Regions from separate parts of the Homo sapiens genome. Here regions 2 and 3 are each linked to region 1. Evidence: fine-mapped QTL for protein levels in blood plasma. Region 1 holds a variant in brackets. A gene starts in each other region. All regions are shown on their forward strands.

Region 1 (10,565 bases):
CTCCCATTTGACAGATGAGGAAAGGAAGACCGAGAGAGAGAAAGTCACTTGTCCGAGGTCCCCAGTGGGAAGTGGGTAAAACGGGATACCCACACCCAGGTCTGCCTGGTATGTAGCCACAACATAGGGTTGGTGGAGCTACAGTCTAGGTAGAGAGAAGAAGGCCCTGTCTGTGGCCAGGGTCGGGGCTGAGTCTGTAACTGGGAAGGCACCCCAGGGAGGAGCATGCTCAGCAGGAAGTGGACAGAGTAGGGGCATGGAGGAAGGAGCACCAGCCATGTGTCTCCAGTCAGGAAAGCCTCCTGGAGGAGGCAGTGAAGGGGGAAGAGGAGGAGAGGAGGGCCTTGCCAGCAGCCTGAGCACTGGTAATGAAGCAGGTAGGCCCAGCTGTTTCCAGATGCACATGGTCTGCACCCAGGAGGGTCAGAGCATGAAGCTGGAGGGGCAGGCAGGGAGACACTGAGAGGGGGGCACCATGGCATCAGAAAAGAGCCCCTGGCAGCTGTGCGAGGATGGCCTCGGAGTTCTGATTGGTTCCGCTGGCTGTTCTTAAGGAAAGAGATGAGGATCTAAATTACTATAGAAACTGAGGGGTGGAGAGGAATGAGGAAGAGGGGATGAAGCCTTAAGACACCAAAGCGTTAGAACTCACCAGATGAGAGGGCCAATAAGATGCCCTGGACAGAAGGAGTGGTCAGGGGTGGCTCAGCCTCTGGTGTGGATGATGGCTTACAGTGTGACTGTGAGCTAAGATGTAGCATTCAAGTGGAGGAATGTGCTGGTGAGAGAAAGACAAGTTTGGTTTGGGACAAATGAGTGTGAGGTATGTATGGGCTATGGAAGTGGACGGGAGCTTTGAGCTCAGAGTTAAAGAGGGATAAGGGGTCAGGACAGGAGTGGTAGTTCTTTGTGAGGCCGAGGCGGGAGGATCACCTGAGGGCTGGAGTTCAAGACTAGCCTGGCCAATATGGTGAAACCCCATCTCTAATAAAAATACAAAAATTAGCCAGGCACATTGGTGCACACCTGTAATCCCAGTTACTCAGCAGGCTGAGGCAGGAGAATCGCTTGAGCCCAGGAGGCAGAGGTTGCAGTGAGCCAAGATCATGCCACTGCACTCCAGCCTGGGTGACAGAGTGAGACTCCATCTCAAAGAAAAAAAAAAGAGGAATAAGGGCTCAAACTAGAGCTGAAGTCAGGCTGTACACTTCAACTGAGGGAAGCCATCAGGGTGGACTAGAATTTGAGCTTAGTCTGCAATCAAGTAGGGAAGTACAACAGAAAGAACACCCATTAACTCTGGTTAGGTTGTATTCTAGAACTTGGAGAAGGAGCCAAGGGTCTGAGCAGACCACAGGCCGAGTTCAGCAATGGTGCCAATCACTCTCAAGGCGTGCAGTTCCCTAGAAGCATTCATAAGAACTCAGCTCAGGACTTAAAGGGACCCTATCAGCTCTGAGGCCAGATGTTGTCAACTGACCTTAAATCATTGAGGTGGGATCTCTTCTCTGAAATGTTCCCTCTCCCCTTTCCCTTCTCTGCAGGGCCCCAGCCTCTTGGCTGGCCAGTGAACACTTCCAAGAACCTTCATACTTAATACCTCTATCACTCCTCCACTCAACAGGTGAGGAAACATCAGTCCAGTGAGAGTGGCATGTGTGGGGAGGAGCCCAGGCTTGCTCTGACCTCTCTCTGGGGCCCCCCACTCCAGAAGGTTGGAACAGCATTCTACAGCATTCCAGGATGTGGAGGGGGCAGCAGTGTTTGTGTGCAGAGTGGCGAGGCCGACCTCCGATGAGCTTCCCGTAGGAAGGGTGCAGTGGGGGGTGCTCACCCTGCCCAGGGATGCTATCTGCTCCAGGACTTGTTTATCAGCCCACGGGGTGATCGGCATGACATCAATGGTGAGGTTTTTTGGGTTTCGTGGTTTTGTTTTTTTCTTTTTCCTTCTAAGGAACAATTCGTTTTGGTCAAATAACTAGAGCAAAAGTGACTGGTGTTTAGACACCTCTTTCCCCAGCCTCTGGCAGTGCCATTGGAGGAACCGTCCCCTGAGGGTCATAGAGGAAGCTGTCTGGCAGCTCAGAGGGTTGCCTCTTGTCCCTGCCCAGCCCCACCGGCTTCCCCTGGCTGCCTCCCTCACATGCCAGGCTTGGGCAGCTTCCCATCACAGACCGAGGTCCAGCCAGAGAGGCCTGTGCTCAGCCCCTCCCTGGGGCCTCTCAGTCTCCCCTCTCTGCTGTCCCGCTCAAATGGTGGGGAGGGGGTAGAGTAGGACAATTCAGAGAGAGGAACTAATCCCCTCCCTCATCCCACTGGGATGCAGAGGAGGAGGCCAGGCTGAAAGGGAACCACACACATCTCCAGTCACTTCTGTCATTGCTATACTGACCCTACAGCACTTCCCATGTGCCACTGGGCCTGCAGGTCGGTATTGGCAAGGGTGAAGGTGAGGGGACGCAAAAGGGAATGCTAGGCTGTGGCGGGGAAGGGCTGGCCTGGGCTCCCAGGAGGTGAGGGGCTGAGTCCCAGGTCATGGTGGCCGGACACAGAGGCGGGTAGAAGGCCAGCAGGGCTGCCCCATCTGAGCCTGGGAGAGCCTGGGAACCCAAAGGCCCATCACAGAGGCTCGGAGGCAGCTGTGTCCACGCGAGACAGAACTTAGGCTGGACTTGGGGGTACAACCCCAGGATAAACTTGGACACATTGAAGGGCAAGCAGCTTGGCCTCTGTCCAACAGGAAACCCCCTCTGCACAAGGAGAGAGGGAATGAGCACAGAGTAGAGGTGCCATGTGTTTCCCAGGGCTTCACTGCAGACAGCATCTCCTGGGAGGTAAACTGAGGCCCCTGTGTGCAAAGCAAGAAACTAGGGCAAGCCCCTTGGGGCTAAAGGTCAAGGAACTGAAGGTTCCAATTTACCTGCCCTGGTAGTTTCTGGCAAGAGACCTCCACCGCCTTCCCTTCCAGGATATGCCAGGCTGCAGGCTACAGTGCCGAGAAGGAGAAGACGGAGGCGGTGGTGATGTCACCCAAGGAATTAAGTAAGCAGGGGAGCTGATAACATCGTCCAGCCAGGCTCACTGTGGGCAGGGTGACTCACTGAAGACGGCCTGCGATCGCCAGGTGATTGTTGTTGTGCCCAGCCTGTGGGGCTGGGGAGGAGGAAGGGGGGCAGGCCACAGAGCTGTGACAAGTTCCTCACCGAGGCCCCTGCTCAGGGGAGAGACCTCAGTACACAGTGTCCTCCACCTCTGAGCCCGGGGCTGGCTCAGGAAACAGCCCCCCTCTGCCTGTGCGATTATCTTTGTCCACAGTGTTTGGTGTGTGTTTGTGGGGTGTGTCAGGTGATTTTCCTGCCCGAAGCCTGCTGGGTGCTCCAGGTACTAGCGATTGCTCACAGCAGAGCAGTAGCCCCCTCCCTGGTTGGACAACTGTCTGTGGAGACAACACCGGATGGCAAACTGCTAACCGCAACCACGTGGCGTCCTTACAGAGGGAACAGCCTGTTCCTCCCGCTGAGGGCACCTGCAGACCTGCCCCATTCATGGCTCCCTTCTCCCTCAGTCCCTGCTGAGGGGATGGTCCCTTCCCACCCTTAAGGGCACCATGGACTGTTGTCCAAGTTGAGAACTGTCCAACTGCAGGGGGCACCATTCACTTGGCAGTCTTCGTGCCAGATGCTATGGCTGTCCACAGTGGCCCTGCCCCTTCCCTTTTGTAAATTACTTCTCAGTTCCCTCCTCCACCAGAATTATCACACCAAACTTTCCCCCATGTATGCTTGCTTCTTTATCACCTGACACTCTCATTCATTCATTCCACAAAAAAATTGTGGCGTTTGTGCAAGGTACTATTCTAGGCAAGGGAACAAGACAGACCCTCCTGGAGCTCATGGAGTTCATATTCTAGCATGGGGGAGAACCAATAAATAAATAATTGGATACATAAAACTGCAAGTGACAATAAGTGCTACAAAGAAAACTAAAGCCAGCCCAGGATAGAGGGTGATAGTGCCCTACTTCAGCTAGGACTGCCAGAAAGGCTTCTCTGTGGGGAGGTGGCCTCTGAGGGGAGACCTGGAGGCAGCAAAGGAGGAAGCCTTCCCGGCAGAGCCCCTCCCATTGGCACCCAATGCCAAAAGAAGTTTCTATAACCCGTCCTGGTTCTGCCAGGAGCCTGCGGCATGGCCTGGGGCGCTCAATTCCCAGTGCAGGGTGTCTATTTCTTCCCCCAACAAACAAGAGGCCTAGTCGCATAGTCTCTTCCAGCACAAATTCACCCACCTGTCGGCTTGAGGAACATGACAGGAATCTGGGTTGGAAGGCCAACTCAGCCACCCACAAGCTGTGTCATCTTGAGCAGGTTACTCAGCCTCTCTGAGCCAGTTTTCTTTCCTATAAAATGTCAGGGAATTGTGGAGGATTAAATGAGGTTGTGGAACTGAAACCACCTGGCACAGGTGCTATCTATGAAGTGAGTGCTTCATAGATATTTTCTGGGGCTGCGCCTAGGTGAGGTGGGGCGAGGTGGGGTGAGGTGGGGCGAGGTGGGGTGAGGTGGGGCGAGGTGGGGTGAGGTGGGGCGAGGTGGGGCCTGGGGGTGCGGTGAGGAGGCGGCTTCCACTGGAGGAGCCTGGAGAAGGCAATGCTGACCCCAAGACGCAAAGCTCTGGTGGCTGCCCAGGTCTGCAGTGGCAGGGCCCGGGGAGCTGGCCCAGGCTGGGACCCTACCTCTACCCACCCCGGGCCTGTGCACTTCCCACTGACAGCAGCCGGTGGGGCGGGCAGGGAGCTACAGTGGGGCCCCCAAGAACTGTCACTCCGCGGCCTAGCTTTCAAC[A/T]TCCTTTGGGGCCCAAGCCACTCAGTTCAACCTCTCTTCCTTCCTCCTTCACTCAGGCTGTTTTGAGTGAGGGCCAGCCACACTCAGACTCCAGCCATGGTGCTCCCTCTCAGCTCCAAGAGCCCAAGGCAAGGAGGTGGAAGGTTAATCAGAGTCCACCCTGGTCAACACAACTTCCCTAACACCTGATGTGAGTTTAGGCATTTAGACCCTGCCGGGAACCCAGAGGAACATGCAGGTGCTCAGCAGGTGCAGGGTGCGGGCAATAACACCAATAGCAGTAATAATAACTAGCCTTCTCGGCTGCCATGGGCCAGGTGCTTTTCATCTAAGACCTTGCTTGATGTTAATCCTGAGATGTGGGCATTTTTTATCCCCTTTCATACTTGAGGAAACTGAGGCTCCAGGAAGGAGGGGTTGTGGGGTGTCGGCGGCAGGGTTTGTGGGCCTACTTCCTGCAGGACAGGAACCTTGCAAGGCACAGGGGATCTGGAGAAGCAGAATTGGAAAGACTCGGGTGGGTGGACCAGCCTGAGGCTGGGGAAGGGCCTTGCAGGGGATTCCTGTCCCACAGATGCCTGCAGGCCCAGGTGTGAGGCCCCCAGCCCCACCACCCCAGCCCAGCCCACAGCTGCTGTGTCACAACCCCTAGAGCGGCTTGGGACTCTGAGTCTCCAACAAGCTCCCAGGTGACCTGGAAGCAGCTGGCTCAGTCTGGGAGGCCAGAGCTGGGCTGCAAAGCCCTGACAAAGCCATTTCTCAGGCCCTCCTGACTTTGAGGCAGGAAATGATCATCATGGCAGCTAATATTAATTGACACCTTACCTGCACAGTAGGTGCTGTGCTAAGCACTTTGCATATGTGAACCTACTTAACTCTCACAATAGTTCTGCGAGGAAGAGAACCTGGGCACAAAGAGGCTAAGTGACTTGCCAGTCATACAGTGCTGGCATTGAACCTGGACACCTGGCTCAAGGCCACACATCTGCCCGCAAAGCAGGATGCCTGGGGTAGGGAAGGCGGCAGGGCAGGGCCTCGAGCACTGGGTCTGAGTGCGGGGCTGGACCTGGTAGGCCCTGGGCAGCAGCAGGTTTCTGAGCAGGGGACCGGCATGCTCCCCAGGACTGGCCACATGGTGTGCGCGTGAGGGAGGCCTGGGCAGACAAGCTCAACACCACTAAGGGCTGAATGTGAAACCCTCCCGCAGGGATGTGGTTTTGACATGAGAAGGCAAAAGAAATAACGCTTCCCTCAAAGGAAAGAACTGACAAACAAAGCTGGGCGCCCATGTGTCGGGCACAAACACTAAAGGTGGAAGTTCAGACGCTAGGAAGGGCGCCCGCAGCCACTTCCTCTGCCGCCCCTCTTCCCCTGCAACAAGGCCTAGTATAGATAGGTGCACAGCTCCTGGGCCTGAGGTCTAAGGACAGCCAGCCTGGGGGACCACCTGTCTGTCCACATGTGTGTGCAAGAGGTCAGGGAGAAAGGGCCTCTGGGTGCTTGCTTGCAGGGAGTGCCTGTCCCCATCCCACCCTGCTCCTGCAGCCGAAAAGGACAGACGCCCTGACTCTAATCTGTACCTCTGGGGCCTCAAAACCACAGCCACGTCAGCCGCGCATGCATCTGGACTAGGTGGGAGGTGGGGCCACCTATGCAGGGTACGCAGGTGTGTGCCAACATGCGTGTGCAGGGCAGACATGCCCCCCCACCCCCGAGGGAGGAGGGCAAGTGGGGTGGAGGGGTCCAGAGATCCGGTGGCCGCCCGGCCCCGCTCCTTCCCCTGCCCCTGCCTCCCCTCTGAGGGGTAGCCATGGCTTTGAGGACCCCCCTTCTTCCCTCAAGCTTCTCTCTGCTCTCAGCTCCAGTGCCAGCGACAATCTAAATAAATGTCTATGGAGCACCTAAAATGGCCTGGCAAGTTCTGGGCACTTGGGAGACATCAGCGAGAAAAGTAAAGATTCCTGCCCTCGGCCGGGCGTGGTGGCTCACGCCTGTAATCCCAGAACATTGGGAGACCGAGGCGGGTGGATCACCTGAGGTCAGGAGTTCGAGACCAGCTTGGCCAACATGGTGAAACCCCGTCTCTACTAAAAATACAAAAATTAGCTGGGCGTCATGGCATCTGTCTGTAATCCCAGCTACTCAGGAGGCTGAGGCAGGAGAATTGCTTGAACCTGTGACGCAGAGGTTGCAGTGAGCCGAGATCGTGCCATTGCACTCCAGCCTGGGTGACAAAAGCGAAACTCCATCTCAAAAAAAAAAAAAAAAAAAAAAAAAGATTCCTGCCCTCTTGGGGCCCACATTTTGTTGGGGAGGCACAATAGACAGAATAAATACATTCCTTTCTTTCTGTCTTTTTTTTTTTTTTGAGATAGGGTATCCCTCTGTGACCCAGGCTAGAGTGCAGTGGCAGGATCACAGCTCACTGCAGCCTCAAACTCTTGGGCTCAAGTGAACCTCCTACCTCAACCTCCTGAGTAGCTGGGACCACCAAGCCCGGCTAATTTTCGTTTTCTTTTTTGTAGGGACGGGTCTTACTATGTTGCCCAGGCTGGCCTCAAGGGATCCTCCTGCCTCAGCTTCCCAAAGTGCTGGGATTACAGGTGTGAACCACTGCGCCCAGCCTTACATTCTATAATCCTCATGTAGGCAGTGGGTTCCATGGAAAGAAAGAGGAAGCAGATAGGGCTGGGAGATGAGGAGTGCTGGTGGGTGCGAGGGTGTGCACTCACTCGGGTCACCGTACTAAGCTGGGTGCTCCAGGGAGGCCCCATGAAGAGGCCAACATTTCAACAGGAGCTTGGGGAAGGAATAGCCAAGCAGAGTCTGGGCTAGAACATTTCAGACAGAGGAAACAGCTAGAACAAAAGGCCTGAGGCAGGAGCCTGGCCAGGACTGGGGGAAGGGCAGGCTGTTGGGGTGGGGACTAAACTGGCCCTACACCTCCAGGATTTCCAGTGCGGTCCATGTGAGGATGGCTCGGCTCATGGCTGAAATGATTCTCTAGTCTGTCGGGCAACTCAGGCTAACAGCAAAGGCCTGATTTCCAGTGGATTAAAGAGAAAGGACCCTGTAGTACCTACAGAAGAGGCCACAGGGTTCACAGAGGAACCAGTGCCCTGGGAGGAAGAGAAGGAGAGGGGTTTACATCAGAAGGAGCCCTGCTTTGGGGCCCAGTGTGGGGGCCCCTAGAGGGTGCAGGGGAGGGAGCAAAGGATGGGACCAGCTACCCTGAGGCCCGCAGGTCTCTCTAGAGGGCCAAGTCTCTGCGTTCCCAGGACCCCCACGAGCCCACCCTGGGAGCTCACTGACAGAGTGCAGTGTAGACTTCCATTCTACAGCTTGGACTCAGCTGCTACCCACAGGGAGGAAGGGAGCCTGGAACACAGCCACTTCTGCGCACCTGCGTCTGCCTGCTGGAGGCCACCAGGCCTGCTTACTAGACCCTACTGAGGCTGCTGCCCCTCCTTCTCCAAAGCACCATTAAACAACTCACGTGGGGGGCTGGGGGAGGTGACCCCAGGAGGTCTAGCCTGATGGTTGAACAGGGGCAGGGATGTGCGCCTGCATGTCCACTTTGCCCTGCAGCATGTGGGCAGCTGGCATTCTAGGAGGTAGATCCACTCGAAAGCAATCAAAGCCACGGAGTGTGTGATTCTGACAGAGGGGGTGGTGGGATGTCAGCGGTGGAGGGCTTCTTATGGCCTAGAAAAGTGAGGGGACTTCTTGCAGAAGTGGGCTTGACCTGGGCTTTTCAGGATGGGAGCAAATTTGAAGGAGGAGAGAGGATACCTCCATGTGCTCACACATTTGCACACACATTTACTCTCGTGCACACACCCAGTCCCTTAAGCCCCCCATCTATAGGTGCTCACAGCCAGCAGTATGCACACACACCTCACACACAGCCAAAGTAATGCACACAAACTCAGAAACACACACACTGGGGCATTCACACTCTTATGAGGCATGCCGATGCTACAACGGTCGCCCACATACACTCTGGGCACCAGAAACATACAGGCCCCTTAGAAATGGGCTTGGGAGAAGATGAAGATGTGTCTGCAATGCGTAAGAAGAGCAGAAGCTGACAGGTGGCAGTAGGGGGTGGAGATGGGGTGACAACAGATATGGAGACCCAGAGAAAGGCAAGACTTACAGACACACCCACGTGCAGACCACACATCCGTTACTGTCAGCTTCAGACAGACCCCGCAACCTTCCTGCCTTCAGAAAGACACTGCTTAGTAACTACGTGACACGATGCATGTCATCCAGCCTCGCCAAGGTTTGATGCTGTCTTCTATAACATGAGGATTTGATAACACCTGCTTGTCATGCCAAATTGATATCCTGTGATTTGACAGGAAAGTCCTGTCTAACTCCAAAGCACTGTTCAGAATTCAGTTACCTCTCCCACCTCCAGTGGGACGCCCCTGGCCAGGCCACCCTCCCACCAGTCTCCCTGCCTCTTCTTGCTCCCACTATAGTCTTTGGCCTACCCTGCAGCCACTGCTCTCCTCCTCCACGCCAGCCTCTGTGATTTCATCTTATTCATAGTAAAAGACAAATTCCTTTGTGGGGGCGGGTAGTGGGGATGCTTCCTGATCTGCCCTCCCTAGTTCCCTTATCTCTCCCCTTCTTCCCTCCGCCAGCCACCCGGGACCCCTCACCACCCCTCACTCACCTGAGACGTGCTCCCCTCTCGGCGCCCTTGCACTAGCTGTTCTCTGCCTGGAACATCCCCAGGGCTCCTCCTTTAGGATTTACTCAGATGACTTCCTCTCAGTGAGGCCTTCCCAGGCCGCCCTAGCGAACACTGGGCCCTCACCACAGAACTCTCTAGCCCCCTACCGTTTTTTTTTCCTTCTCCTTGGCCTCTTTACTTCCCAACACAATACGTATTTTATTTGTTTGCCTCATTTATTGTCTGTCTCTCTTGTCAAAACGAACTCCATAGGGGCAAGGACTTTTGTCTGTTTTATTCTCAGCTGTGATCCCTGGCTCTCAGAGCAGAGCCTGACTCATAGGACTCAATAAAGATTAAGTGAATGAATGACTGAAATGAGACAGCAAATCAGTAAGCATTTATAAAGCACGATTAAGAAATAGAAGCGGGGCTGGGCGCAGTGGCTCACGCCTGTAATCCTTGCACTTTGGGAGGCCGAGGTGGGCGGATCACCTGAGGTCAGGAGTTTGAGACCAACCTGGCCAACATGGTGAAACCCTGTCTCTACTAAAAATACAAAATTAGTAGAGCGTGGTGTTGCACGTCTCTAGTCCCAGCTACTCGGGAGGCTAAGGCAGGAGAATCGTTTGAACCCGGGGGGCAGAGGTTGCAGTGAGACCAGATTGTGCCACTGCACTCCGGCCTGGGCGACAAAGTGAGGCTCCATTCCCCGCCCTCCCAAAACAAAAAATAGAAGGGGAGGGACCAACCCTGAATGAGGCATCACCATGTTCCAGGAAATTGCAAGCACAATATTCCCTTATTCTCCATCAACCCTGGGGAATCATTCCCATTTTACAGATAAGAAGATGAGATCAGAAAGGGGATGACCTATGGTGGTTGTAGATTGTCTGCGAAGATGGTCACTGACAATTCCTCTCCTCTCTGTATTAGAATGCTGTTCTTCCCTTCAAAAGGTGGAGCCAGTTCCGCACCACACACACACACATACACACACACACACACACACACACACCTGCATACCCCCACCTCTTC
Region 2 (4,036 bases), not on the chromosome of region 1:
AGTTGTTAGCAGGTTTTTCCCAAATAGGGCTTTGAAGAAGGTGAATATAGACCCTGCCCGATGCCGGCTGGCTAGGAAGAAAGGAGTGAGGGAGGCTGCTGGTGTGGGAGGCTTGGGAGGGAGGCTTGGCATAAGTGTGATAATTGGGGCTGGAGATTTGGCTGCATGGAGCAGGGCTGGAGAACTGAAAGGGCTCCTATAGATTATTTTCCCCCATATCCTGCCCCAATTTGCAGTTGAAGAATCCTAAGCTGACAAAGGGGAAGGCATTTACTCCAGGTTACACTGCAGCTTAGAGCCCAATAACCTGGTTTGGTGATTCCAAGTTAGAATCATGGTCTTTTGGCAGGGTCTCGCTCTGTTGCCCAGGCTGGAGTGCAGTGACATAATCATGGCTCACTGTATCCTTGACCTTCTTTCTGGGCTCAAGCAATCCTCCCACCTCGGCCTCCCAAAGTGCTAAGATTACAGGAATGAGCCACCATACCTGGCCCTGAATCTTGGGTCTTGGCCTTAGTAATTAAAACCAATCACCACCATCCGTTGCGGACTTACAACCTACAGTGTTCTAAACATTTTATATGTTTGATCTCATTTAATCCTCACATCAATTTAGGGACAAAGAGCCCCCCACCCCCCGTTTTTTTTTTTACAGCTGAGGAAACACTTCAAAGTGGTAAGACATTTGCCCGAGGTCCTGAAGGAAGAGAGTAAAGCCATGTCTGCTGTTTTCTAGAGGCTGCTACTGTCCCCTTTACTGCCCTGAAGATTCAGCCTGCGGAAGACAGGGGGTTGCCCCAGTGGAATTCCCCAGCCTTGCCTAGCAGAGCCCATTCCTTCCGCCCCCAGATGAAGCAGGGAGAGGAAGCTGAGTCAAAGAAGGCTGTCAGGGAGGGAAAAAGAGGACAGAGCCTGGAGTGTGGGGAGGGGTTTGGGGAGGATATCTGACCTGGGAGGGGGTGTTGCAAAAGGCCAAGGATGGGCCAGGGGGATCATTAGTTTCAGAAAGAAGTCTCAGGGAGTCTTCCATCACTTTCCCTTGGCTGACCACTGGAGGCTTTCAGACCAAGGGATGGGGGATCCCTCCAGCTTCATCCCCCTCCCTCCCTTTCATACAGTTCCCACAAGCTCTGCAGTTTGCAAAACCCTACCCCTCCCCTGAGGGCCTGCGGTTTCCTGCGGGTCTGGGGTCTTGCCTGACTTGGCAGTGGAGACTGCGGGCAGTGGAGAGAGGAGGAGGTGGTGTAAGCCCTTTCTCATGCTGGTGCTGCCACACACACACACACACACACACACACACACACACACACACACACACCCTGACCCCTGAGTCAGCACTTGCCTGTCAAGGAGGGGTGGGGTCACAGGAGCGCCTCCTTAAAGCCCCCACAACAGCAGCTGCAGTCAGACACCTCTGCCCTCACCATGAGCCTCTGGCAGCCCCTGGTCCTGGTGCTCCTGGTGCTGGGCTGCTGCTTTGCTGCCCCCAGACAGCGCCAGTCCACCCTTGTGCTCTTCCCTGGAGACCTGAGAACCAATCTCACCGACAGGCAGCTGGCAGAGGTGGGCAAACACCTAGTCTAGAGTTGGGGAGGGCTGTCCGTGAGGGTGTTGAGTGTCCCAGAGAGGATGCAGGGCCTCAGAGGAGATGCTTTAGGGGTGTGTTGGTGGTGATGGGCGTATCTGAAGAACAGAGGTGTCCAGGGTTAGGCAGTGGGGGGTCTTGTGGAGGCTTTGAGCAGTGATGGCCAGAAATGGGCAATGGGGCTTTCCTAGGTGGGAAATGGGAAATGGTTTGGGGTGGGGGAGGCATTGGAGGGTTCTGGGGTAAGCATAGGCTGGGAGTGAACAGGGGCAAACCTTATGCAGCTGTGGGGTAGAAATGGGCTAGAGGCATCCAGGGGTGAGAAGGAGCTGAGGATGTCTAAGGAGGGGAGATCCCTGGGTGGTCAGAAAGCACTGGTGTCTGGAAAGCATTTAATGCTTTATTAAATGTTAGTCCCTGCTGGGCATGACGGCTCACACTTGTAATCCCAGCACTTTGGGAGGCTGAGGTGGTAGGATCGCTGAAGCTCAGGAGTTTGAGCCCAGCCTAGGCAACATAGTAAGATCCTGTCTCTACAAAAAAATTAAAGAAATAGCCAGGCACAGTGATGTGCACCTGTAGTTCCAGCTATGCAGAAGGCTGAGATGGGAGGATCGCTTGAGTCCAGGAGGTCCAGGCTGCAGTGGGCTGATACCGTCTCTCCGAAAAAGAAAAAGAAAAAAGACTCCCTCCATGAGTGTCTGGAGGGAGTCCTTTGGCCCCAGCTGGGCAGAGAAAGGGGTCAGAGATCTGGCATGTGTGTGTCCCTTCATCCACAGGAATACCTGTACCGCTATGGTTACACTCGGGTGGCAGAGATGCGTGGAGAGTCGAAATCTCTGGGGCCTGCGCTGCTGCTTCTCCAGAAGCAACTGTCCCTGCCCGAGACCGGTGAGCTGGATAGCGCCACGCTGAAGGCCATGCGAACCCCACGGTGCGGGGTCCCAGACCTGGGCAGATTCCAAACCTTTGAGGGCGACCTCAAGTGGCACCACCACAACATCACCTATTGGTGAGCCGGGGCCGTGGGGGCAGCGGGGTGGGGCGGGGAGGCCAGGTCTGGCTCTTGGGCCAGCGGTGAACATGTCCTGTCTTGGACGCGTCCCTGGGTTTCACTATTTAATGTGTGGCCCCTGGGGAGTGTCCCCACCTCTGAGCCTCTGTTTCTCCTTCAGGGAAATGGCTCTTGCAATCCAAGTCCTCCTGCCAGGGCCATTGTGAGGGTCTAAGTAGACAAAAAAAAAAAAAAAAAAAACAGTCTGGAAGCAATTTATAGATGAGAGCGTGGACGGCAGAGAGCATTGTGTATGTTGAAGTCTCTGCGATATGGGGTGTCCCTGCTGCCCCGCTCCAGCCTTTCACTTCTGACCTCCTTCCTCTGGCTCTTACGCTACAGGATCCAAAACTACTCGGAAGACTTGCCGCGGGCGGTGATTGACGACGCCTTTGCCCGCGCCTTCGCACTGTGGAGCGCGGTGACGCCGCTCACCTTCACTCGCGTGTACAGCCGGGACGCAGACATCGTCATCCAGTTTGGTGTCGCGGGTGAGAACGTGAGGAGGGAAAATCCAAGAGACCTGGGCGGGGTCAGGGAAGGGAGGACCACGGAGAGCGTGGAGGCAGCAGTGGCCCCGGCTTCCTCTTGCCTGCCCGCGCTGCCCTGGCTTATACGGCCCCTCCTGCCAGACAGTGCACAGGGCCAGGGCGCCAGGCTGGGAGAGCTTCGCGCAGGCGGGATTTCAGCCCGCACTTATTTCGGAGCCCTTGCCTTGGGCAGCGCACAATCTGCGCAGCAGTACTCGGCTAACCCTCTTCCTCTCGACCTGTTTCTTCAGAGCACGGAGACGGGTATCCCTTCGACGGGAAGGACGGGCTCCTGGCACACGCCTTTCCTCCTGGCCCCGGCATTCAGGGAGACGCCCATTTCGACGATGACGAGTTGTGGTCCCTGGGCAAGGGCGTCGGTGAGATTCTGAGTCCTCCTGGCCCCTGATTCCCTTCATTCTCTCCCACTCATCACCCGCCGCCCTAACTCCGGTCCCCCCTCCTCCTGCAGTGGTTCCAACTCGGTTTGGAAACGCAGATGGCGCGGCCTGCCACTTCCCCTTCATCTTCGAGGGCCGCTCCTACTCTGCCTGCACCACCGACGGTCGCTCCGACGGCTTGCCCTGGTGCAGTACCACGGCCAACTACGACACCGACGACCGGTTTGGCTTCTGCCCCAGCGAGAGTGAGTGAGGGGGCTCGCCGAGGGCTGGGGGCGCCCACCACCCTTGATGGTCCTGGGTTCTAATTCCAGCTCTGCCACTAGTGCTGTGTGGCCTGCAATTCACCCTCCCGCACTCTGGGCCCAATTTTCTCATCTGAGAAATGATGAGAGATGGGATGAACTGCAGACCATCCATGGGTCAAAGAACAGGACACACTTGGGGGTTATAATGTGCTGTCTCC
Region 3 (9,189 bases), not on the chromosome of region 1:
CTGGAGGCCCCACAACCCCTCCACACCTCACACCACTTCCCTGCCCAGCTTCTGAGCCTCCCTCTCCTGCCCAGCCTCTTTGCCCATCCTATTCTCTCACCCCCTGGTTCCCAGAGTTGCCTCTACATCTTGACATCACCTCCCCCTGGAAGCCTTCCAGGGATGCCCCTTCTCTACCTGTGGAGATGCCAGGTTCTCAGTGGACCACTCTCTCTGCCTGACCTCCTGGCTCTCTCCCCTTCTCAGCATCCTTCTGCCTGGCGCCTGGCCTCCCCAGTTCCCGGAGGGCAGAGGGTGCCTCTGCTCCCCACCGGCACCCGTGGGCAGACCCAGCAGGCGGGTTCTGGCGGGGAGGAAGGAAGTACTTACTGAGCAGCGTCCTCTGTGTGAGCAGTACCCCCATGCTGGGTGCCCGTGCTCCGGCCCGCGCCCGCTGGGGGTGACACCTCTCGGCTGGGAGCCCTGCAGGCTGGCAGCCACTTTATGCCCGCTGGGGCGATTGGCCAACACCTCATGAGGTGGGTGGGGATGGGGAGGGGGGAGGGCAGGCCTTCTGGGAACATGACCCCAAAAACCAAAATTTCCACGGGCGGCCAATGGGCGCAGGGCGCGGTGTATGCCCGCTCCTCCTCCTGTTTTCTTCGAATTCGTTCTTCGAGGTCAGCCCTACGCCCAAGGATGATGTAAAACCGCAGCCTCAGCCTTCCTAGGGTGAGTGGGGAGGAAAAGGGTCCATGCCATCTTCAGGGAACTGGGCCAGGGATGGGCAGGAGGGACTTCGAGCTGGGCCTCTGGAGGCCCCAGGCCAGTCTTGGCCCAGGAGCCATTGGCCTCACAGGACACGGTGGTTGGGGGCTGAGGGGAGCGAGACATCTTCCTTCTTGAGTGCCCTTCCTGCCCTCTCGCCGGGGCTGTTGGGACATCTGTGAGCGGAAACCACCGGGCTCTGGGCACAGAGCCAGACGCAGGCTGGCAGCCCCGAGATTGTGGTTCAGGCCCCAGGACCAGCATCCCCCAGCCCGGCTCCCGACGGTCTCCTTTCCCCCATCGTGCACCCTCTGCCAGGCCCACTCCCCAAAGCCAGGCCTTGTCTTTGTAGGCAGGCTCCACTGGGGAGAACTGGACACTTGGAGCAAGAGAAACAGGAGGCCAGGGTTCAAGCCTGCTGAGGTGCTGTGTGACCTGAGGCAAGTCACTTAACCTCTCTGGGCCTCAGAGACCCACAACTATAAAATGAGGAGGAGAAAAGCCTTTCCCAGCCCACCTCACAGGGTTGCTGCCAGCATGGACATAAAAGGAAAAGACCTCTGAAGGAAAAAGCAAAGATGAAGGTCTGATTCCAAGTATTAGCTGTCGAGGGGGCGGGATGGGGGAAGGAGGAGATGGGGAAGCTGTGAGCTCAGAGGGGAAGCCGGGGAGGGGGAGTTGCCGCCTTGACAGTTGGGGACCAGGTTTCACTTTCTCTGAAAGATAGCGATCTTAGGTTGGTCCTCTGCGAAAGGGCCCTGGGAACAGCGCCTCCCTAGTCAAACTGCTACTTTACTGTGGGGTAAACTGAGGCCTGGGTGAAGGCAGACAGGGAGGCCAAGAGGCTGGCCCAGGCCTATAGACCCTGCCTGGTCAGCACATCTCCCAGGCCCAGAGGAGGGTCCTTGGCCTGCACCCTAAGAAGCCCGGGTGGGAGGAGGCCCTCAGGAGTCTGGGGAGTCAGGGTGGGACTCCTGGAGGCTGCCAGGGAGGCCTGAGCTGCTCCAGCTGGAGGGAGCATGGGGTCTGGGGCGCCTGAGCAAGGAGAGCTGGGGCAGCCAGAAAGGAGGAGGTTGGATGCACCCCTGTCCATGCCTGCTCCCGATGCCCACTGTGGCCACCAAGGCAGTTGCCACCCATTCTCCCCATCACTCATTTATTCATTCGACAAACCTTTATTTGGCTCCATGCTGCACCAGCCACTCCCAGGTCTGAGGATCACGTAGTAGGCAAAAATAGGCGACCCCACGCCCAGGAGGCTGCTCTTCAGCCCCTACCCACTCCCCGGCACCCAGGCTGGGACTCACCACACCAGGCCTCATACCTCCCCCTCACCACCCCCAGGGGCCAGTTCTGGATTCTCATCCTGAGAATGTCGCTTCCGCTGAAGTCCTCATCTCTGTGCCCACCCCCACAATGCTGTTTCCTGGGGCCATGCCAAGAGGGGATCCTTCTCCATTTCACATCCCTGATCTCGTCTTTTTTTCTCTTTTTTTAAATGCAGGATCTTGCTCTGTCACCCAGGCTGGAGTGCAGTGGCGCCATTGTAGGTAGCTCACTGTGGCCTCCAGCTCCTAAGCTGAAGCAAGGCTCCCCGCCTTAGTCTCCTGAGTAGCTGAGACCACAGGCATGCATCACTATGCCCAGCTAATTTTTTTATTTTTTGTAGAGACGGGGTGTCACTATGTTGCCCAGGCTGATAACAAACTCCTGGGTTCAAATGATCCTCCTGCCTTGGCCTCCCAAAGTGCTGGGATTGCAAGCGTGAGCCACAGCACCCAGCCACCGATCTCATCCTGCAACAGCCAGGGGAGAGAAGCCGCTGGGCAGTGACACCTCAGCTCACTTCAGTGAGGAGCTCGAAGCTCTGGGAAGTTTAGGGGCTGGCTCAAGGAAGGAGCGCCAGATCTGAGCAGAGGGGTCTAGGCCATTTTCAGCTGTGGCTGACCGACCACCACGCTTGGTGAGAAACAGCCACATGCCTTTATCTTATTCTATCTATCCTGTGGTCCAGGGAGGCCGTGCTGTCTCCTCATGGCAGAGAGAGGAGGTTGCTTTGTCTGAGGTCACCTATGAATAGTTAAGAGGAGAGGGGCATTTGGCCAGGCATGGTGGCTCACGCCTGTAATCCCAGCACTTTGGGAGGCCGAGGCAGGAGGGTCATTTGAGCCCAGGACTTCGAGACTGTGTCTTTACAGAAAATGTAAAAATAAATTATCCAGACATCGTAGTGCATACCTGAAGTCCCAGCTACTAGGGAGGTTGAGGCAGGAGGATCGCTCGAGCCCCGAAGGTTGAGGCTGCAGTGAGCCATTATCATGCCACAGGACTCCAGCCTGGGTGACAGAGCAAGGCCCTGTTTAAAAAAAACAAAAAACAAAAAACCCACCAAGAAAAGAAGGCATTCAAACGAGGCCCAAAGACCATACTCTTTGCACATAGTTAATGAGGGTGTCAGGCACAGGGCCCAGGGCTCAGAGTCACTGAAGGTAAGGAGAGCAGGTAGATTACATTGCTAGGACTCCCATAACAAAGTACCACAGACTGGGGGGCTTACGTAACAGAGATTTATTTTCTCACAGTTCTAGAGGCTGAAGTCTGAAATCAAGGGCTGGTTCCCAAGGCCTCTCTCCTTGACTTGTAGATGACTGTCTCTCCCCGTATCTCCACATCATGTTCCTTCTGCTTGTCCGTGGCCTAATCGATTTTTTTTTTTTTTTGAGACAGAGTCTAGCTCCGTCACCCAGGCTGGAGTGCAGTGGCACGATCTCAGCTCACTACAACCTCTGCCACCTGGGTTCAAGCGCTTCTCCTGCCTTAGCCTCCTGAGTAGCTGGGATTACAGGCGTGTGCCACCACGCCAGGCTAATTTTTGTATTTTTAGTAGAGACAGGGTTTCGCCATGTTGTCCAGGCTGATCTCGAACTCCTAACCTCAGGTGATCCACCTGCCTCAGCCTCCCAAAGTGCTGGGATTACAGGAGCGAGCCACCGCGCTTGGCCTTATCTCTTCTTATGAGGACACCATTCACATTGGATTAGGGCCCACTCACATTTTACCTTAATTATTCCTTTTTTTTTTCTTTTTCGAGACAAAGTCTTGCTGTGTTGCCCAGGCTTAAGTGTACAGTGGTGCTTTCATAGCTCACTGCAGCCTTGAACTCCCGGCCTTAAGCGAGCCTCCTGCCTCAGCCTCCAGAGTAGCTGGGATTACAGGTATGTGCTACCACACCTGGCCAATTTTACCTTAATTACTTCTTTTTTTTTTTCTTTTCTTTTTTTTTTTTTTTTGAGATGGAATCTCACTCTGTCACCCACGCTGGAGTGCAGTGGCGCCAGCTTGGCTCACTGCAACCTCTGCCTCCCAGGTTCAAGCAATTCTCTGCCTCAGCCTCCCGAGTAGCTGGGACTACAAGTGCCCACCACCATGCCTGGCTAATTTTTGTATTTTTTTAGTAGAGACGGGGTTTCACCATGTAGGCCAGGCTGGTCTCGAACTCCTGGCCTCAAGTGATCTGCCTGCCATGGCCTCCCAAAGTGCTGGGATTACAGGCGTGAGCTACCGCACCCGGCCCTTAATTACTTCTTTAAAGGCTCAACTTCCAAATACAGTCACGTTCTGACACACGATGGTTAGGACTTCAACACATGAGTTCAGGGAAGACACCATTCAGTCCATGCAGCCTGCAAGAGGAAGGCATAGCTGGAGGGCACAGGGGCTGGGGCCACTGTCGGAGCATCCAGAGTGAAGTGATACACAGGAGGACAGGGAGTGGCTCGGAGGTGAGGAGGCCTGGCCGCTGACCATCCCAGCCAAGCGTGAGGAAAGATGCGTCAGCGTTTCTGGTGAGGTCAGCAATCAGTGACGTCCCTCTCACCAGCAGGAAAAGCTTGCAACATGGCCCAGCCAGTATAAATAGGCTCCCCGACCACAGGACCCGGGCTGTCCCCTCTTCCCGGGCCACGTCAGCCAGGCCCGCGTGATTTGGAGAGGAAGAGAGGACCAGCTTGGTTCCTCAGAACTGCTGCTTCCTCGCTTTCCGGCTTACCCTCTGCTGTGGGGCCCTACGCCTTTAAATGCAAGGATAGGACCTGAGATGGCCTGGCAGGGCCAGGTCGAAACTGGAGGCTGGGGAGAGGTGCTCTGGTGGGGGGAGAGAAGGTGGCCCCCAATCTGCTGGGTGGGAGGTGGAGACCAACCCAAGTTCCATCTCAATCTGCCTGTGAGCCCAGTGTCCCTGGACCAGTCATGTCCCCCTTCTGAGCCTCAGTTTCCTCTTTTTAAACTGCAATGACAACTGAACAACAATGAAAAAGACAAGCAATCCAATTTAAAAATGGGCAAAGGATTTTAATAGACATTTCTCCAAAAAAAAGAAGATATACAAATGGCCAAGAAGCACGTGAAAAGATGCTAAACACCAGGGAAATGCAAATCAAAACCACCATGAGAAGCCATTCCACATTCACTAGGGTGGCTATAATCAAAGGTAGACAATTACAAGTGCTAACGAGGAGATGGAGAGATGAGAACCCTGGGGCATTGCTGGTGGGAATCTACAATGAATGGTGCCACCAAATTGGAAAACAGTTTGGCAGTTCCGCAAATGGTTAAACACAGAGGCCAGAGGCAGTGGCTCACGCCTGTAATCCCAGCACTTTGGGAGGCTGAGGCCGGCAGATCACTTGAGGCCAGGAGTTTGAGACCAGCCTGGCCAACGTAGTGAAACTCCAACTCTACTAAAAGTACAAAAAATTACGCAGGCATGGTAGCACTCGCCGGTAGTCCCAGCTACTCGGGAGACTGAGGCAGGAGAATTGCTTGAACCTGGGAGGCGGAGGTTGCAGTGAGCCAAGATTGTGCCACTACCCTCCAGTCTGGGTGACAGAGTGAGACACTGTCTCAAAAAAAAAAAAAATAAATAGAGATATCATATAACCAACAATTCCACTCCTAGATATACACCCAAGAGAATTGAAAACATAGGCCAGGTGCAGTGGTCAGACCTGTAATCCCAGCACTTTGGGAGGCCAAGATGGGAGGATCACTTGAGCCCAGGAGTTCAAGACCAGCCTGGCCAAAAAAGTGAGACCCCATCTCTACAAAACATTTAAAAATTAGCTGAGCATGGTGGCTTGCACCTGTGTGGTCCCAGCTACTCAGGAAGCTGAGACCGAAAGATCACTTGAGCCTGCGAGGTCAAGGCTGCAGTGAGCCATATTCATACCACTGCACTCCAGCCTGAGTGACAGAGTGAGACTCTGTCTCTGGACAAAAAAAAAAAAGAGGCTGAGCACGGTGGTTCACACCTTTAATCCCAGCACTTTGGGAAGCCAAGGCAGGTGGATCACCTGAGGTCGGGAGTTCAAGACCAGCCTGGCCAACATGGTGAAACTCCATCTCTACTAAAGATACAAAAATTAGCTGGGCATGGTGGCGCACGCCTGTAATCCTAGCTACTCAGGAGACTGAGGCAGGAGAATCACTTGAATCTGGGAGGTGGAAGCTGCAGTGAGCTGAGATCGCGCCTTTGCTCTCTAGCCTGGCAACAAGAGCGAAACGCCAAAAAAAATAAGAAAGAGAGAAAGAGAGAGTGGGAGAGAGGGAGGAAGGAAGGAAACGTACATCCACACAAAAACTTGCAAATGTTCATAGGAGCAATTATTCGGCATAGCCAAAAAGTGGAAGCAACCCAAATGTCTGTCAATAGAAAATGGATAAACAAAATGTGTTCTATCCATACAAAGGAATATTAAGTCACAAAACGGAAGGAAGCATTGCCATGTGCCACAACATGCATGAACCTTGAAACCATGATGCTGCATGAAAGAAGCCAGACACAAAAGGCCACATGTTGTATGATTCTGCTATGGGAAATGTCGGGAATAGGCACATGGAGAGACACAGAGAATACACCAGTGGCTGCTGGGGGCTGGGGCATCCAGGGCTGGGGAGAGACTGCTAATGGGCACGAGGTTTCTTTGGAGGTGATGAAGATATTCTGGAATTACATAGTGGCGATGGTTGCACAACCATGTGAATATACCCAAAACCCCCAAATCATACACTTTAAAATGATACAATTGCTGGTAGGTGAGTTGTATCTGAATGTTTTAAAATGCAGTAGCAAATGCACCTTGTAGGACAGTCAGCAAAATGCAGTGAGGTGAGTACGTGAGCGCCTGGCACATTGGAGCAGGTGCTCGGTCACACTTACCCGCCAGCCGCCAGGGCAGACGAAGGCAGGCATTTGCTTATGTCACACGGTGGCTTTGAGGGAGATTGGGAAAGGCGGTGTTACATAAACCCCAGGGTGAACAAGGAGCCACCAAGCACCCTCCCCAGAAGGTCATCGAGGTCACATTGGGATGGGAGGGGGGATCCCTTGGCTTGCAACCTCCACGGAGTTCTTCTGGGACCTGGAGTGTCCACCCACAGGTGTAGGAGAAGGAACCCCGTTCTGTGCAGTAACCTCCAACTGTCTGCCTCATGGCAACCGAATCCAAAGATCCTCAGACAAGGCCCCACCACTGCCCACTCTCTGGCTGGCCTGGAAACCCCCGCTGCTGCTCTCTTTGAGTCCAGGATCCTGTCCTGAGATGAGGGGACATGTGAGATGACCACAGAATGCCCAGAACCCTACAGAGCCAGGCAGAGCCCCTTAGCGGCTCTAAGCACTAAAATACTATGCTAACTAAAAACTACCCTCAGCATCAAACAAAGATAAGGAAGTCTAGTCTGACTTTTCTCGTGATGACAACATACCATGCCTATTTTGAAACGTCAGAGTCTGGCCAAAAATGTTTGGGTGAATGGGGTACCAGTCATCATTATCGGGAATATTTCTGGAGCAACCTCTGCGTACTGGTCCCAGTCCTAAGCATTGAATCCTTGTAACCACTTTAGGAGGCAAGTATCATTATTTTGTCCTGCAGATGGTGAAGCTGAGGCCTGAGAGGCAGAGACCTGGGAGGGAGCAAAGGCACACTGGAGCCCAGGCACCCTCCTAGAGCCACCAGATCGACCCGCATGCCCAATGGGTTGTCCAGAACTGATGTTGCCAAGTGGCTTGAGGAAAGCAAAAACAACAGCTTGGGGAAGGAGCCAGGAGAGGGAGGAGGTTCCCTGTCACAGTGGGAGGCCAGCCAGGGCGCAGGACGGCACAGGCCTAGTTCAGAGAATGGCAGGTGTGGCTGGAAGTCTGACAGGGAGGAAGATGAGGAGTGAGGGGTGATGGCATCCCACTAGGCTTTGTTGCTTTTGCGGCCCCTAGGGAGGGGCTCATACCACACAGCCGGGTCGAGTCCTTCTGCTTAAACAGTCCCTGTCTTCCCATTGCCATTCTGATAAGGCCAAAGTCATTACCACAGCCACCAGGTCCTGCCCACCTCCCAGCCTCACTAGTACCTTTCTTTTGCCTGCCTTTCTCTGGCCTTCCTCAGTCCTTCCGGGAGCAGCTCTCACCTCAGGGCCTTTGCACATGCCGTTCCCACTTCCTGAGCACTCTACCTGTGACCTGCCACCTAGATATCAACGTCCAGTCCACGCTGCACCTTTTCAGGGAAGACCTCCCTGACCTTCCTCACCCCAGGCTGGTCCCAACCCGCCTCCTGGCACCCTCCCAGAGTACCACGTATCCCTCCACACCACGCTCTTCAGAGGTGTACATTTTTAAAACTATGAGGTTGTCTCTCCAGCCAGACTGGAAACTCTCAGAGGGTGTATACTGTGGTTGTGGCCCCCACCCCCATTGCCTCTCCAGAGCACAGCAAAGCCCCCAGAATGTAATAGGCTCTCCATACATTCTTGGTGAACCGATGAATGCACAGCCATATAGCTGCAGCCATCTTTAGAAGCCTGGGGAAAGGTGAGCTGTGGCTCCCAGGCTGCAGGACCCAGAGGCGTCCCTGTCCCACATCTGGTGAACCCAGAGCCAGGCCTCTGGAAGTGCAGGGCCATCTCGCTGTGGGCAGGAACAAGTCTCTCAGGCCCTTTTCCATGCATTCTCCCGGTCCCCTCTCCCGAAGAATCAGAACTCTATCAATCACAGTCCATCAGAGCATGTGATTTTGTTTCTGGGAAGCTTCAATTTCAAAGACGCTGAGTTTCTCTTTTATGATAATTTTTTTAAAGGGAAATCAAAATCTGCTCTTTCACTCACTGCAGATTTCAGCACTTTCCCGGAAAATTGACTAAAAAAGAAAAAGCCACTGGTGCTTCTTTTAAAGGGTTCACTTCAGAATGAATTCCACATGAGTGGCACCTGATGGTCTCATAGAAAGAGATTGGTCTTCGTGGAAGGGGGCAGTCCTACCTTTTGCAAAAACAGACAAATCACAGTGGGTTCTCAGTCTGTCATTTGACCTATATTTAAGTACCCACTGTGTGTGCTGGGCACAGGCTAGATGTGGAGGATAAATCAGAGAGAAGGAAAAGGCTTCC

Alleles and levels. Positions count from the first base shown, and alleles are read on the strand shown. Strength reflects both the effect of a copy and how common the allele is.
In carriers of allele A in region 1, the plasma level of the protein whose gene starts at base 1,407 in region 2 tends to be lower than with T alone (weak association).
For the plasma level of the protein whose gene starts at base 455 in region 3, allele T in region 1 goes with a higher level than allele A (weak association).

What was found. A credible set is the group of variants that fine-mapping cannot tell apart. PIP is the posterior inclusion probability: the model's chance that the variant is causal. The UK Biobank Pharma Proteomics Project read protein levels with antibody pairs (Olink). The fine-mapping took linkage between variants from a reference panel, not from the people measured, so its PIPs are less certain.
Region 2: MMP9 starts here. The variant in region 1 is the best candidate, but not a certain one, in a credible set for the plasma level of the MMP9 protein (UK Biobank, PIP 0.53).
Region 3: it holds the start of OSM, and the variant in region 1 is the best candidate, but not a certain one, in a credible set for the plasma level of the OSM protein (UK Biobank, PIP 0.74).

The regions. Positions count from the first base shown.
Region 1 is chr2:43,128,086-43,138,650 of GRCh38, forward strand. It overlaps LOC105374570 (a long non-coding RNA gene), which reads left to right and starts at 311. Exons shown (of 3, transcript XR_940018.3): 1 at 311-377; 2 at 1,545-1,904; 3 at 2,969-4,289. RefSeq lists enhancers at 3,029-3,088, 5,187-5,950, 5,734-5,783, 5,951-6,712, 6,224-6,293 and a silencer at 3,579-3,628. The variant A/T (reference allele first, on the strand shown) is at 4,841.
Region 2 is chr20:46,007,502-46,011,537 of GRCh38, forward strand. MMP9 (matrix metallopeptidase 9) reads left to right here and starts at 1,407. Exons shown (of 13, transcript NM_004994.3): 1 at 1,407-1,563; 2 at 2,365-2,597; 3 at 2,982-3,130; 4 at 3,421-3,549; 5 at 3,642-3,815. The coding sequence starts at 1,426.
Region 3 is chr22:30,266,397-30,275,585 of GRCh38, forward strand. It overlaps OSM (oncostatin M), which reads right to left and starts at 455. Exons shown (of 3, transcript NM_020530.6): 1 at 370-455. The coding sequence starts at 403.